Linked DNA regions of Homo sapiens: region 2 is linked to region 1. The links come from fine-mapping of genetic effects on gene expression. Tissue or cell type: whole blood. Region 1 holds a variant in brackets; the other region holds the start of a gene. All regions are shown on one strand. Distances are from middle to middle.

Region 1 (8,108 bases):
TATTCTTAGTGCATATAGTACCTATTCATCCTTAAAAAAACATGATGACAAATCCAATCAATTGCACCTTTAATGGAGAATTCCAAAACTAGAATTCATATTGTTGAATATTTGATCTATCAAGACTAAATATCTAATCTTTCATGATGTAAGAATAGTTGATACTAAAAGTTATGAATTAATAAAGATGACATATATCTCCAAATTTACAAAGATAACACTAGAAGAGTGTCTTAGTAAATTTGGTTGCCATAAAAAAAATGTCAAGCATTGGATAGCTTAAACAAAAGCAATTTATTTCTGACAGCTCTGGAGGCTGGAAGTCCAAGATTAAGGTGCTACTGATTTGGTTCCCTGGTGAGGGCTCTCTTCCTGGCTTGCAGACAGCCACCTTCTTGCTGTGTTCTCTTATGGTGGTGGTGTGGAGAGAGATCTCTGGTCTCTTTTCCTCTTTTTATAAGGATGCTAATTCCATCGTGAGGGTCCCACTTTCATGAACTCATCTAAAAATAATTACCACACGAAGGCTCGCCTCCCAAATATCATCATCTTGGGTGTTAGGGCTACAGCATATGAATTTTAGAGGGGCACAAACATTCAGTCTGTAACAAACAGACAATAATACTTTCAAATTACCAGGAGAAAAGTAAGTGCACCACTTTCTATACATACCACTTCACTAAACCACACACATACACATACACACCACTTCACTAAACACACACACATACACATATACACACACACAGAGAGAGAGAAAAGGAAGCACATGTATCAAGCATATCTGTTAGAAATACAAATATAAATAGAAATATAAAATCTGTTAAAAAATAATTTCTTTGTTTGATCCAAAAGCTAATTACATGCCAAAAGTAAAAGATATGTTAAAAAATTACAAAGTTATAAATTAAAGGTTAGACAAAGATAAAGCAAACAAATGCCAACAAACTTAAGTGGGGATTGTTGTATTAATAAGCAGGCAAATTTTAATTTTAGGCAAAAGACATGAAAAATCCTAAATGAACTCATTGTTTAATGATGCAGAAAGTATTTCACAATAAATGTAAAAATGTCAGGAACCTTTATGCTCAGATAATATATCAACAAAAATACACAGAAAAAGCTACTGAAAATACAAAAATAAATACACACCAAAAAGTATAATAGTAAATATTAACTCATCTTTTTCAATCCATCACTAATTAAGACTACTTAGCAAAATAAGAAATATAGAGAATTTAAGCAGTACTACTAATATTTTTATTATATGTGATATAAGGTTGTGTACTATATGTACTCAAATTTCTGTATCTTACAAACAGACATACACACCTACTTTTAAGCATCTTCAACATTTATAAAAATTGACCACAAAGAGACAACAAAAATTTTTTAATCACAGAAAAGAAACTTGTGCAGACCATATTCAATATCTAACATGAAAATAAACAAGAAATTGGCCGGGCACGGTGGCTCATGCCTGTAATCCTAGCACTTTGGGAGGCCGAGGCGGGCAGATCACAAGGTCAGGAGATCGAGACCATCCTGGCTAACACAGTGAAACCCCGTCTCTACTAAAAACGTACAAAAAATAAGCCTGGTGTGGTGGCAGGCATCTGTAGTCCCAGCAGTGAGCCGAGATTGGGTCACTGCACTCCAGCCTGGGCGACAGAGCGAGCCTTCATCAAAAATAAAATAAAATAAAATAAAATAAAATAAAATAAAATAAAATAAAATAAAATAAAATAAAATAAACAAGAAATTAATAATTTTTAAAAGAGGGTACCAAGATAATTCATTTAGGGAAAGAATCATCCCTTCAACAAATGGTGCTGGAACAACCAGATATTCACATGCAAAAGAATGAAGTTGAATCACTAAACAAAACTGAACTCAGAATGAACCATCAATCTAAAGGTAAGAGCTAAATCTACAAAACTCTCAGAAGAAAATATAGGGACAAACCTTCATGACTTTGGATTTGACAGTGGGTTCTTAGATATGATACTGAAAGCACATGGAACAAAAGAAAAAGTAGACAAACTGGACATATAAAGACAAAAATTTTTAACATCCAAGAATATTATCAAGAAAATGAAAAGACAATCTACAGAATAGGAGAAATATTTTCAAATCACATCTCTGATAAGGGATTAATATCTAGAGTATATAAAGAATTGAAATTCAACTGAAAAGACCATTTTAAAATGGGCAAAGGACTTAGTATTTCTCCAAAGAATATCTAAAAATGGACATTAAGCACATGAAAAGGTGACCAACAACATTTGTCATTAGGAAAATCCAAATCAAAACCAAAATTAAATACCACTTCAAACCCACTAGGATGTCTACAATCAATAAAATGAAAAATAAGTGTTGGCAAGGATATCTACAAGTTGGAACTCTCAAGTATTACTGGGGGAAATGTAAAATGATTCAGTCACTGTGAATAAATATTTCATGGTAAGTCAAACATAGGCTTACCAGATGACCCAGGAATTCCACTTAGGGACATACCTAAGAGAATTGAAAACAGGTATGCAGATTACTCTCTATATGAACATTCAGAGCAGCACTATTCACAATAGTCAAAAGATAGAAACAACCCAAACATCCATCAGTGGATGAATGGATTAATAATGGATATGAACAGAATTCATCTTGTGGCATATCACATAATGTAAACATCGCTACACTTTTTCTGAACAGGTATGTTTAGTGATAAACAGAATTTTAATGAGCCTTCCATCTTTTCATTGACCTATCCATCCATCCATCCATCCATCCACCCATCCATAATTCAGTCTTTTTTCTTCTTCTTTCTGTAAGTCTCTTTTTTTTCTTTGTTTTAACTTATATTTTAAGTTCAGGGGTACAAATGCAGGTTTGTTACATAGACTTGTGCCATGAAGTTTTGTTGTACAGATTATTTCATTGCCCAGATATTATACAAGATTATGCCAGGTGAAAGAAGCCAGACACAAAAGTTCACACGTTGGTCATATGACTCAATTACATGAAATGTTCAGAATAGGTAAATTCAGAGGTACAGAAAGCAGAATGGTGATTGTCAAGGGCTGGAGAGAGTGAGTAATGGGGAGTAGGTGCCTCATGGATATAGGATTTTATTTGGCGTAATGAAAATATTTTGGAACTAGATAGAGTTAGTGTTTGCAAAACATTGTGAATGTACTAAATGCCACAAAATTGTCTACCTTAAAATGCTTAATTTTGTCTGTAAATTTTACCTCAATAAAAAAATAAATAAAAAATGCTGGGCACAGTGGCTCATGCCTGTAATTCCAGCACTTTGGGAGGCTGAGGCAGGTGGATCACTTGAGGTCAGGAGTTTGAGAGCAGCCTGGTCAACATGGTGAAACCCTGTCTGTACTAAAAATACAAAAATTAGCAGGGCATGGTAGTGCATGCCTGTAGTCCCAGCTACTTGGGAAGCTGAGGCAGGAGGAACCTGGGAGGCAGAGGCTGCAGTAAACCGAGATTGTGCCACTGCACTCCAGCCTGGGCCACAGAAGTAGATTCTGTCTCAATAAATACATAAATATAAAAACCAATAATGCCAAACATTTCAGGAAAACCTAATAAGCCAAATATTTAAAGATAACTTTCTTGGCTAAAAAAGAATGGTATAATTTTAAAAAATCAGATTATCAAGAAAACAATAATAACAAAAAACCTACATATTAAAAATCAATGAAATGCAGTCAGAGTTCATTTGATGGTGCTTTCCTTTATTGCACCTCTCAGATATTACGTTATTTTTTTTACAAACTTCTTTTTACAAGGTTTGTGGTAACTCTACTCTGAACAGCCTATTGACGCCATATTTCCCAAAGCATATACTGCTCAATTTGTGTCTCTGTGTCACATTTTGGTAATTCTCGCAACATTTCAAACTTTCTTATTATTACTATATCTGTGATAGTGATCTATGATCGGTGATCTTTGATGGAACTACTGTAATTTTTGTTGGGCATCACAAACCATACACATACAAGACAGTGAACTTAACTGGTAAATGTGTGTGTTCTGAGTGCTCCCTCCATTGAACATTTTCCCCTCTCTTTCCCTCTCCTTGGGTCTCTTTATTCCCTGAGACATGACAATATTGAAATTAGGCCGATTAATAACCCTAATGGCTTCTAAGTGTTCAAGTTAAAAAAAAAGGGTCACAGGTCTCTCACTTTAAATCAAAAGCTGGAAATGATTAAGCTGAATGAGGAAGGTATGTCAAAAGCCAAGATAGGCAGAAAGGTAAGCTTATTGAACCAAATCACTAGTCAAGTTGTGAATGCAAAGGAAAAGTTCTTGGAAGAAATTAAAAGTGCTACTCCAGTGAACACATGAATGATAAGAAAGTAAAATAGCCTTATTGCTGATGAAAGTTGTAATGATCTGGAAAAAAGATCAAAATGACCACAACATTCCCTTAAGCTAAAATTTAATCCAGAGAAAGACCCTCACTCTCTTCAATTCTGTGAAGGCTGAGAGAGGCAAGAAAGCTGCAGGAAAATTTGAAGCTGGCAGATACTGGTTCACGGTATTTAGGGGGGGAAAAAAGCTGTCTTTGTAAGATACAAATGTAAGGTGAAGCAGCAAGTACTGATGTAGAAGCTGCAGCAAGTTATCCAGAAAATCTAGCTAAGATTATTGATAAAGGTGGCCACAGATTTCCAGTGTAGATGAAACTACCTTAAATTGGAAGAACATGCCATCTGGGACTTTCATAGCTAGAGAAAAGTCAATGCCTGGCTTCAAATCTTCAAAGGACAGTCAAAAAAAAAAAAAGTGATGGATGGATCACTCTATCACTTTCTTTTGCATGGATGAAAAAAGAAAGTGATTCCTTTTCTTTACTTAAAGCCCCAAAATAATCTCCTTTGACTCCATTTCCCACATCCAGGGCACTCTGGCACATGAGGTGGGCC[T/C]TCAAGGCCTTGGGCAGCTCTGCCCCTTGTGACTTTGCAGTGTACATGACCATGGCTGCTGTCATGGGTTGGAGTTGAGTACATGTAGCTTTTCGAGGCTCAGGATGCAAGCTTCTGTTAGATCTACCATTCTTGGGTTTGGAGGGTGGCAGTCCCTTTCCCCAAGCTCCACTAAGCAGTACTCTGGTAGAGTCTCTGTGGGGGCTCTCACCCTGCATTTTCCCTCTGTGCTGCCCTAGTAGAGGTTTTTTGTGAGGGCTCCACCCCTGTGGCAGGCTTCTGCCTGGTCACCCAGGTTTTCTCATACATCCTCTGAAATCTAAGGGGAAGCTGCCAGGCCCCCTTCACTCTTGCTTTCCATGCTACCATAGACTTAACACCATGTGGGAGCCACTAAGGCTTATGGCAGCTTGCAGTCTCCAAAGCAGCAGCTTGAGTACTATCTGGAGCCCTTTGAACTAAGGCTGAAGCTGGGACAGCCAGGATGTGAGAAGCAGTGTCCTGAGACTGCACAGGGCAGCAGGGCCCTGGGCCTGGCCCCTGAATCCATTCTTTACTCCTAGGCCTCTGGGCCTGTGATAGGAGGAGCTGCCTTGAAGATAACTGAAATGCCTTCGAGGCCTTTTTCCCATTGCCTTGGGTATTAACACTTGGCTCCCTTTTAGTCATGCTAATCTCTCTAGTAAGTGGTTGCTCTGCAGCCTGCTTGGATTCTTTGTCTACCACAGGGCTAGGCTGTGAATTTTCCAAACTTTTATGCTTTGCTTCCCTTTTAAATATGTTTCAACTTTAAATCATTCCTTTACTCCCATATCTGAGTTTAAGCTGTTAGAAGCAGCCATGTCATATTCTTTTTTTTTTTTTTTTTAGACAGAGTTTCACTCTGTCACCCAGGCTGGAGTGCAATGGCATTACCTTAGCTCACTTTAACCTCTGCCTCCCTGGTTCAAGCGATTTTCCTGCCTCAGCCTCCTGAGTAGCTGGGATTACAGGTGCCAGCCACCACCACACCTGGCTAATTTTTGCATTTTTAGTAGGGATGGGGTTTCACCATGTTGGCCAGGTTAGTCTCAGACTCCTGACCTCAGGTGATCTGCCTGCCTCAGCCTCCCAAAGTTCTGGGATTACAAGCATGAGCCACAGCACCCAGCCTTACCAAATATTTAAGAAAAGAATAATGGGAATTGTATACAAGTTCTTCAAGAATATTGAAGAAGATATACTTCTTAAATCATTCTATAAGGCCAATTCTCAATACTAAACTCTAACAAAGATATTATAAGAACATTATAGAACAATATCCCCTGTGATTATAGACACAAAAATGTAAAACAAAATTTTTAGAAAATCAATGCAGAAATACAATTGATATTCATAATTCAGAGATTCCATATTTTCCAATTTGCCTGCTTGCTAAAATGTATTTGTAACACTCAGATCAATAGCTGCAGCATTCTCATGGTCACACGCAGATGGGCACAGAGAGATGAGAGGGATGGGTCTCCTGTGGTGCACATTCGCAGCTTGAGTTTAACAAGCCTACACTCTGCTTTCTTGCTCCAGCTCTCACACTGTAAACAAATGTCCTTTTTGCAGTATTTCATGCCATGTTTTAAACATTTTTGAGCTCTTCTGGGGGCAATTCACTATTTAAAATGGCCCCAAGCTTTCATGCTGAAGGGCTGTCTAGTGTTCTTAAGTTCAGGAAGGCCATGATGTGCTTTACAAAAAATATATGTGTGATAGGATTTCTTCAAGCTGAGCTATAGTGCTGTTGGCTGTTCAATGTTAATGTATTGGTAATAGATATATATACACAAACATATATTAAACAAGATATCTTTAAACAGAAACATACATAAGACGAGGTTTTATGTTGATATGTTAATAAAAATATTTTGGTTATTGTGGTCACCTCTGTGGAACCAGATGTTCTCAGGAAACTAGCCTTGTCTTTCCCCTAAGAGCAATGGTTCAGTGTTCACTAATTCAATGTTTGTGGCAAGTTTATAAAGCATAACTACTCAAATTTATCTAGGTTCAATGCAATCCCAATCAAAATCCCAGAAAGATTTTGTAAATAATGACAAGGTGATTTAAAATTCACATAAAAATATAAAGAACTTAGAATAGTCAAACAGCATTTAAAGTAAAAAAAGAACAAAGTTGAAGACTTATGCTACTTGACTTTAAGGATTATAGCACTACAAAAATCAACATAAACAAATAGATCAATGAGCCAGAAAAAGAGACCAAGAAACAGATCCTCACACACACATATTAACAACTGATTTTCAACAAAGGTGAAAGACAATTTAGTAAAGAAAAGATTGTCTTTTCAACAAATTGGATATCTATATACAAAAATAAAAATAATTTCAGTCTATACTTTGCACCATATAAAATAATCAATTATAAATAGATTACAAATATAAATGTAAGAGCTACAACTACAAACTCCTACAAGAAAACAGGAGGTTTTTTGGTGACCTTGTGTTAGGCAAAGATTTCTTAGATATTGTACAAAAAGCACAACCCTTAAAAAAACTATAAATGTAGCTTCATCAAAGAATCTTTTGTTTTCTGAAATATATTGTTAAGAGAATTAAAAAAATCAAACCCCAAACTGGAAAAAATATTCATAAAGCATATATCTGATGAAAAATCTTATCCAGAATATATTTAGAAACTCTTAAAACTCAACAATAAGAAAACAAACCATAAAAAAATTGACAGAAGATTAAGATGTTTCACCAAAGAATATTATATATATATATATATATATAATCAATAAGCACATGAAAAGTTGTTATTAGGAAAATGCAAATTAAAACTGCAATGAGGTATCATCACACATCTATTAGAATGATTGAATTAGACAGATTTATTTTGTCAAGTATTGGCCAGAACCTGAAGCAACTGTAACTCTCATACACTGCTGGTGGGAATGTAAAATGGCAAGACCACTCTGGAAACAGGTTTGGCAACTTCTTCAAAAGTGTAATAATAATAAAATAAAATAAAATAAAAAAAGTTAGTCATACACTTCTGATCCAAACATTTCACTTCTAGGTTCTTACCCAAAATAAATGAAAGCATATATCCATACAAAGATGTATTCACTATGTTCACAGCAACTTTATTTGTAATAGCCCCAAACTG
Region 2 (8,108 bases), 140 kb before region 1:
TGTTTATGGACATGGGGTAATTTCTTCCATGGCCCATGTGTTGATTATCATCAAGTAGCACTGCTGGGATTGATTGAGGATGTTCTCTTGGCGAACACATGTCCATGTTTTCGCAGGTCGATGTTGATTTGTGAGCGGTGTGTTGGTGTCTGAGATGGGCTTTAACCATGACTCGGAGGCACTGGGTTTCTCAGACCCCAGCCAGCCCATCTTGCAAAACTGGTGTGGGGAGAAGGGGCGGCCCCTAACAGAGGGCAAGACTGATGCAGTATTAGTGTTCACTCTTTGCTTTATTCCAAAAGTAAGTGTCCAGAGCTGGCAGTGACATTGTAAATTTGATCGCGGCTTAAATTCCACCTGAACACTTAGAAATAAAGCCAGATGCTGAGACATATGGCTTTTTGCAGACTAGTTTTGCATATATTCAGAGAGCTTGGCACATTACGGAAGACACAGGAGTACAGACAGCTGCAGGGTAGAGACGCTCCTCCTCATTAGCGGTGGTCTTCTAACCAATACAGATGCTGACACTGGGCTGCTCCCACTGCCCACCTCCACGGCACATCCTTGCCTGGTCGTTCCACTCTCTTCCAAGTGCTACACTAACACATCTCCCTGACCACCTGGGAAGACCCCCGCCCACCACCCAGCTCTTCAAGAGACTTAAGTATTTGATTGTCTGCATCTTCAGTCTTTTCATGTTTACTGAGAGACACTGCTTACATCTGAACTTACCTGAGTTCTACTCAATAAAGACCCCATTAGCTAAGGGTTTTCATGTCATCCTCACTAAGCTGGGTTCATCCAGCCTACCTCAAAGCATTTTAATACCAACACATTTTTTTTTTGTCGAGGAGGAATAAGACGCCTTCTGGAAGATGAGTATGCAGTGGATGACCCCAAGTTAGACCCTGCCAAGGTCAGAGGTGCCTACCTTCCCCCAACTTCCAAGGAGAAACATTGCTGGGAGGAGGGTGAGCCAGAGAGAGGAGGCCGGATGGATTCCAGATGTGCTTTCTATACTAGCGATTCGCTTTCTCTACCCATGTCAAGTTGAAAAATAAACAAACTATAAAAGGAAGAAAAAGAGAAAAAATAAAGAAAATGTTTCCACAGTCTGGTCTCCTTCCCAACACCCCCCTTTCTCTCTCCGCATAAAAGATAGGCACAATAAGATAGTAAGATAGCATCTTGGTCAGATGCAGGATGCTATATTTTTAATAGGCATGTACTCCCAGGGAAATTAACTAGTTCATCCTCCAAACTGAATCAAAACACCAAACATATGCCAACAAGCAAAATTTCTTGGAAAGCAAGATGTTTTTTAAAATTTCATTTAAAATAACTTGGAAAGGAAATAATGAGTCGGCCGTTACAAGGCTCCAGCAAAATTCCTTTGCTAATGAGTATTTTCCCTTGCTCTAGATTTCTTGGGTGACCTCGCTCTGCTTTTGGAGACAGTCCATTGCAAAATGCATGCTTCACACACCCAGCTGCACAGGCTTGGCCCATTAATGCAGCTCCCCTGAGAAATAACAACTGTTACAGACAAACCAGGTGAGGGTTTTGTATCTTTTCTCCCTTCTCTTCTTCAAAGCATGCAAGTCAGTGCACTTCCCTGGTTAGACTTACTGCTTCCCGGTGGCTTTTCCCCAAGTCCTTCTCCATCACAAATAAGGCTGGGACATTATGAGCTATCTGGGCATAGTCCAGGGAACCCCAGATATGGAGGCTGTGCCCCAGGAAACTCAGGCCCCGGCCCCGAGCATCTGCCTCCGTGAACACCATCCTGAGCTTCCAGACTTGTGTGTGGGAAGGCAAGTGCGTCTGAGCCAGGAGGTGTTTGACCGCTTTGCCTGTCCATGAGTCTTTTTAAACCTTCTCCATTCTGCTGCTGCTTCATGACAGCATAGGATAAATGATTCTCAAGATTTCCACAGGGATGAATCCACAGGGATGTGGAAATAGGCTCTGTGAGGTGGCTAAAGGCACATTCAAATAAGAGGCATCCTGCCCACGAAGGCTACCGGAGATCCTTCCTATCCCTTCCCAAAGCGGCAGTCTCACCTGGTGACTCGGCATGCGTGCCACCTTGCACCATGGACATAGCACACATGGCCTCATGGCAGCATCTGCCTTCTGAATGTACACAGGAGGAGACCGAGGCTGGGGGAGGGGGGGTGTCACTTGTCCTTAGTCACAGAGCTGGGAAGGGGCTGGGCCGGTGTCCGTGCCATCTGATTCCAGGATGTCACATTAGGGATGAGCTCTTTGGGAGGCTGCCACCTTGCCACTGGTTCTTTGCCTAGGTAGTGACAAGAGATTCTCTGGCATGTTTTAGAGACAAACTGCCTCATGCTCCCATGCCAGCAGAATGTTAGCATGTCATTCTGGGGGCACTGAAATATCTGGAAAATTTTGAAGCCAGGAAAATGGAGCGGCATCTGCAAGGCCGAAGAGCACCATCCACTGCTTGAGGAGCGGACCGTCACCTCGCTGTGTGAGCTGACCCCAGTCCGGCCTGTGAGCAGTGAAGATCCACTCACTGGGCACCAATCTGCACTGGACAATCTCGTCACTGATTTAACCCAACTGGCCTATTGTCTCTTACAGACACAGCTTCAATGCCTCAAAAATAGGATTCAAAAAAGGGAAGGAGACTTTATGCCCAGTAGCTATAACAGTAACATCAACTGAAACATGTTATTAACTGAAACTAGATACGATTCCACTCAGTCTATTCTTTTTCTTTTTTCTCAAACATTATACATTTCCAAAAGCTTAAGGAAAATCTTAAGGCAATTAATTTGGCAGAAAACATATGGCAGAGGAATAATAGGAAATGCCTCCAAAACTGATAAGAAAGGAATTACAAAGCCAAATATGAAGAAACAGAAAGTTTCATAGAACCCACAGCACAGCACCCTGGTTCCAGCTAAGGTAAACAGACTGCATAAGGCTGGCGGCCTGGCTCTGGTAACACTTGGGAAACAGTACAAAGTCCTGGCAGTTAAAGGGTTCTACAGCAGGGCAACCTCAGATTTTTCAAGATTGTGGCATGCTCAAATTCTCCTTTTTTTGGTAATAAAAATATACCTACAGTATATAATAAAAATATACATACAGCACAGGCATTGAGGAAGATGAAAGAGATACCATGAAATCAAGTTAATGTCATAATTTCCAGAAAGAGGAAACCAGTTCCTGAATTTTGAGAAATAAGATCCTTCGGCCACTATGTGAAGTTTCTTCTATAGGAAACTGTAGTCTCTACCCTTTGTATATGGTAGAAAATCAGAGACTCATGCATTTGAATAAAAATCACAATGATAAAGGGAGAAATGGCACTTTCAAAGATGAAAACTGGTTGAGAAATCATTCTCTCTAAATCTTAGGGGGAGGCTCTTAAGGGCTAGCTTCAGTTTGTATCTCTGGTGTTAGGTGATGGAAGTGATTTCAGAGGCCCAAAGTGAGTGCTTACTGGTTTGCTAATGAAAAAAGCCTGACGTGCGGTTCTTCTTCTATGGCAACAAAGTTATTCAACCTAGCATTAAGGTCTGCATCCATGAAATAATACTTTACAGATATGAACACTTCCACAACTCCTCAAGCGCACACACACACACACACACACATGCCCCGCACCATCACCACCTCCTCAACCAACACCAGCCCTGGGCATGGCCAGCTATCCTTGTTAGTCATGTATCTGCAGAGCATAATCCTTCCCTTGTACTTTCTAGGAATTATATTTTTCTTAACTATGCCTGCAAGATTTTCATCTATGAATAAAAAACATTGAAAAGATAAATTATGAATATGTGGTTATATACAAAGTCTGTGACTTCTAATGTCCAGATTTTAGAATGATGCCTAATTCTGGAGGTCTCAGAGGTCCAAGTGGGAGTGGGTACCATGAATGGGGGGGCCTCCATTTAAAAGTAACCTTCTAAAGAGCTCTCTGTTCCTGTAGCTCCCCTTTCCTTATTGGAAGGGTCAAAACGAAGTGTGTTCCCTTAAAAATCCAACAAGAAGTTCCTCTCTTATATCCAAATATAAAAACACCACAAAGAAATATACCATTGGGAGTGTCCAAAGCCAGAAAGTCAGAGGAAGAGAGAGAGAGAGAGAGAGAGAGAGACTGACTATTGGGAGACTCAAAAAGCCCAAAGCCCCTTCTCTAGCTGTTATCTCAGTTACGAACACAACGTACTGATTTTCCGTGGGAACCTCATTATTGCACTGTGGGGACTTCGTCTTCCAGCACCGATTCTGACGGCCCTAATTGCCTTGTTTGAGAAATGTTAGGAAAAAACTAATTTTCCGGCGAATATTGTTTAAAAGAATGATTTTCCCAGGCTAACGACCACAACCCTCTCCCACGTCCAGCATCCCCAGGCCCTGGCACTGTGGAAGCCTAACTTGTTAATTGTCCAAGGAAAACGACTGATGGAACTTCTCCACGAACAGCCTCTCCACTTTCATCCAGGTATTCAGCTCCAGCCCGTTGTAAACGCTCCGGGTGCGGTGGAAAAGGCCTCCTCCCTGTTCCTGCAGCGGCTCTGGGGGAGGGGTGCTGATGTGGAGCGCTCCGGCCGCCGTGGCGCGCCCAAGTCCCCGTCGCGCCCGGGATCGGTGGGGATTTTGTTGGAAAGGTGGGTCCTTCGGCCCCCAGCCCCCCACCCTGGTTCCGCGCCCCGCCCGGGCCCGCCTCTCACCTCCGTCGGCTGAGGGCGCTGGGGCCACCGGCATCCTAGCGGGTGGCGCGCGGCGGTGCCGGGGCGCCCGGTCCTGCGCTCGAATGCCAGATGGGCTGGGAGGCCCGGCAGTCTCAGCGCTCGCGACGTCGTTCCCGGGCCTGGGGTCCTGCTCGGTCGCGTCCTGCAGCCGCCTTCTGGTCCCTGAGTCCCTGTTGCCCGTCCCCGGAACCGGCTTCCTCGGCCTCTGCCCGAGCGAGTCAGAGACTAAACTTTTCCAGCGGCCCGCCGGGGCGGGACCCGCGCTCCGCCCCTCCCCTCGCCGCCCCCGACTCCCGCCCCTCTCCCCGCCCCCCTCTCCCCGTCCCCCGCCCGCGAACCCGGCACTCCTCCAGCTCCCCACCTCCCGCTCAAGCCGCCTGGTCTCCGTGCGCCCCGCCCGCCCCTAGCCTGGACCCCTTCTCCCCGACCCTACCAATCCCCTAGGGTCCGGCTCGCCCTTCGGCCCCTGTTCCCAGGCCGGCCTCCAGACCTTGTCCTCATCGGGCGAGCTCCAGGTGCAGAAACCGGGCGCCCAGAGACCCAGCGGGAACAGGCTTGGAACCAGGTCCGAGGTCTGGGCTTGGGCGGGCGCCTGTCGCCCTGACAGCGAGGGTTTGTTTGGGCCGATTCTTAATAGGAGGATTAATACTATCATTATCGTTGTCCAGATCCTGACCATTTCTTTTGTAACTGGCCGAGCACCGGCTTGGGCTTGCAGGTGGGCGCCTGGCGCCGGACAGCGTTTTTGTTTGGGCTTCTTCCTTTTCCGCGCGGGTCCCCTCCGGCGCCTGCCTGGTCCCTCTCCGCGCTCTACCCCCAGGCACGCAGAGACTTGGGCTCCAGGCGGGGGCAGCACTCTCCCCCAGCCTCTGCTGGTGCACCAGAGCCCACTCCGGCACAGAGCAGCGCCCCTCCTAGACCGGCAGCCAGCAGATCTCAGCCGACCCCCATGCGACCCCCTTCCTCACGCGGATTTGCCCCTTTTGTGTGGCAAAAATAATAATAATAATAATAAATCCATATGAAGGCTTCAAACAGAATTCCGAGAGAAGGAACTGCCAAATTTTCAATCAATGCCAAAGGCCATGATTGAGCGAACACAGAAACAACTGTAGAAGCTTGGGGAGAAAGGAGAAAATTAAAGAAAAAGGAGGAGGAGGAAAAGGAGAGAGGAGAGAAGCGGGAGGAAGAAGACGAAAAAGCAAGGAGAGGCCTGTTATCCGACCGTGCATTCCTGGGCCGGCAGGATTGGGCCGCAGGGGCCGCTGCAGAGAGTTGAGTTTGTGCAAAGGCCGCTCGTTACTTTCTGTCTTTTGCCCTCTTGCCTCCAGAGGATCAGCCCAGCGCATCCTTCTCTTGGAGCAGGGTGCATACGCTTATTTGGGGTGCAGTTTGAGCGGTGAAGGGCACCAAGAGTGGAAGTCGGCGGCACTCCTGTTCCCTGCAGAGAAACGCAAGCCCTCAGCAATTGAGCTGAAGGAGGCAAGTGACTCTGCCTGCTGAGGCTGCCAGCCCTAGAGGCTCTGGCCCCCGGGAGCTGGGGTACTTCCCAGCGTTTTCGCCTAAGCCACTTCGCCTGTGCTACTGTGGAGTCTTCCGGCACTGTAGCCTTCCAACTTGTTCAAAGTGCCTGGTGCACGGCTCTGAGAAGCCACTTCTGTCCCAAGTTTCATGTGGGCCTGAATGTGCTTCCCTTTGTTGGACTCCTACAGCATCAAGTCAAGAAAAGAAGGAAACATGCTCCTTTGGCATTGGTCACAACCAGGATAACAATACAGCATACTGTGGCCACTGTGTCTATATTACCAAAGTGGTCAGTAGGTTCATCACACCTCTGTTCAATTAGTTGCTTCCCGTGATGAAAAATTTACTGCTAGGATACTGGCTGAGGGTTGTTTTAAGGGGCACCCAAGTCTCCGTTCCTAGAGAAAGTCAGTTACCCTGATATAACAGAGCAACCTTGAGGCGTGGTGATGCCTCCAAAACTAGTCTGCGGAATCGGAGCCCAGAAGCCCTGAGGAGTAATGTGGCTCTCATGCTTTATGGCAGGTTTCCCTAAGAGAGACCCAGGATCTGACCCATGGCATCACTGAAATTCCTCTTTCAGTGAGGCTCCGTTTGCCTAAAGATCCCTGTCCTCAGTGGGTCTCCCCACACACGGGCCTCTCACTCACCCACTGCCCCACCCCCATCTGCTGCCCTCTTCCTGGGCCTTAAAGCTCAGACACTAGACTCTGACAAGGAGCCCTCCATGCCCCGGTAGAGACCATCTTCTCTCACCACTCCTTTTGAGAGAAACAGCCCTCCCTACAATTCTGTTGAATAAGTCTCCTCCTCTGCATCCTGTTTCACAAGTGAAAGCAGTTTAACAGAAGAATGCCAGCTCATAAACGTAGAAATGCGAGAATGAGGAAATCCCCATTCTGTAACCCTTAATGAAATAATTAAATCAGGCAGTGTGCACTAGTGGGTGTCAAACCCTTAGGTGAAAGTGTGCAGGCGAACGGGTGCTAATTGGAAAAAAAAAAGAAAAAGGTTTTCCATTTTCCATTTTTTTATGGAGACATCTGGCTGTACCTTACAGGAAGATCAAACTCAGTGTCACTAATACTGGCTCAACCTGGCATTATGTGATGCAAAAGAAACACACAACATCATTGTTGCTGTGTGCTTGCCAAAGATGCTTCAATTGAATCAATTGCAAAGCCTCTAGACTTTACTGCAAGTTTACAGGAAATGGAAGAGTTTGAGCCATGAGTTAAATGACACCATGGGAAAAACTGGACTACCAGAGTGTGGGCATTCTGCAGTCCTGAGCTCTTCCAAAAAAAATCAATGTCAAGAAAAAGGGGTGAAGGATTCTTCTGGTATAAGAACAGCTGAAAAGAAGAAGTATAACAATAAGTACAAATCCGGATTGACTCCCAGCTGGACAAATCAGCACACACACACGCACACAAAAACATTTTGGAGGAAATTACAAATTGGAGGGGATATTGACTGATAGTATAGAATTATTGTTAATGTTTTTAGGTGTGATAATGGCATAATGTTTGTTTAGGAGAATGGCTTTAATTTTAGGAGGTGCTGCTGAAGTATTAAAGGGTAAAATGTCTTCATGTCTAAAACTTATTTTAAATTGTTCAGCACAGTACGTGCACATAAGCTGATATGACAAAAGGTTGGTGATTATTGGTTCTACGTGGTGGATTTAGGGAAGGGGTTGTACAATCTGTTCTCCTTCTTTGTATCTTTGAACTTTTTCCATAATAAAAAGTTGGAGAAAAATAAAATGGCAGGTACTAAACAACTAAAAAATTTCTCTACCTTTGCGCTTAGACTTTAAATCAAATCTAGGCTTATGGGAAT

The links. PIP is the estimated chance that this variant, and not a neighbour inherited with it, causes the effect.
Region 2: it holds the start of S1PR3, and the variant in region 1 is fine-mapped to the expression of S1PR3 in whole blood (TOPMed, PIP 0.97).

What each region holds. Positions count from the first base shown.
Region 1 is chr9:88,843,691-88,851,798 of GRCh38, reverse strand. No RefSeq gene overlaps it. Among named protein-coding and RNA genes, the nearest start is that of MIR4289, 100 kb to the right of the region's middle. The variant T/C (reference allele first, on the strand shown) is at 4,947.
Region 2 is chr9:88,988,306-88,996,413 of GRCh38, reverse strand. It overlaps S1PR3 (sphingosine-1-phosphate receptor 3), which reads right to left and starts at 4,946. Exons shown (of 2, transcript NM_005226.4): 1 at 4,719-4,946. RefSeq lists a silencer at 5,106-5,400.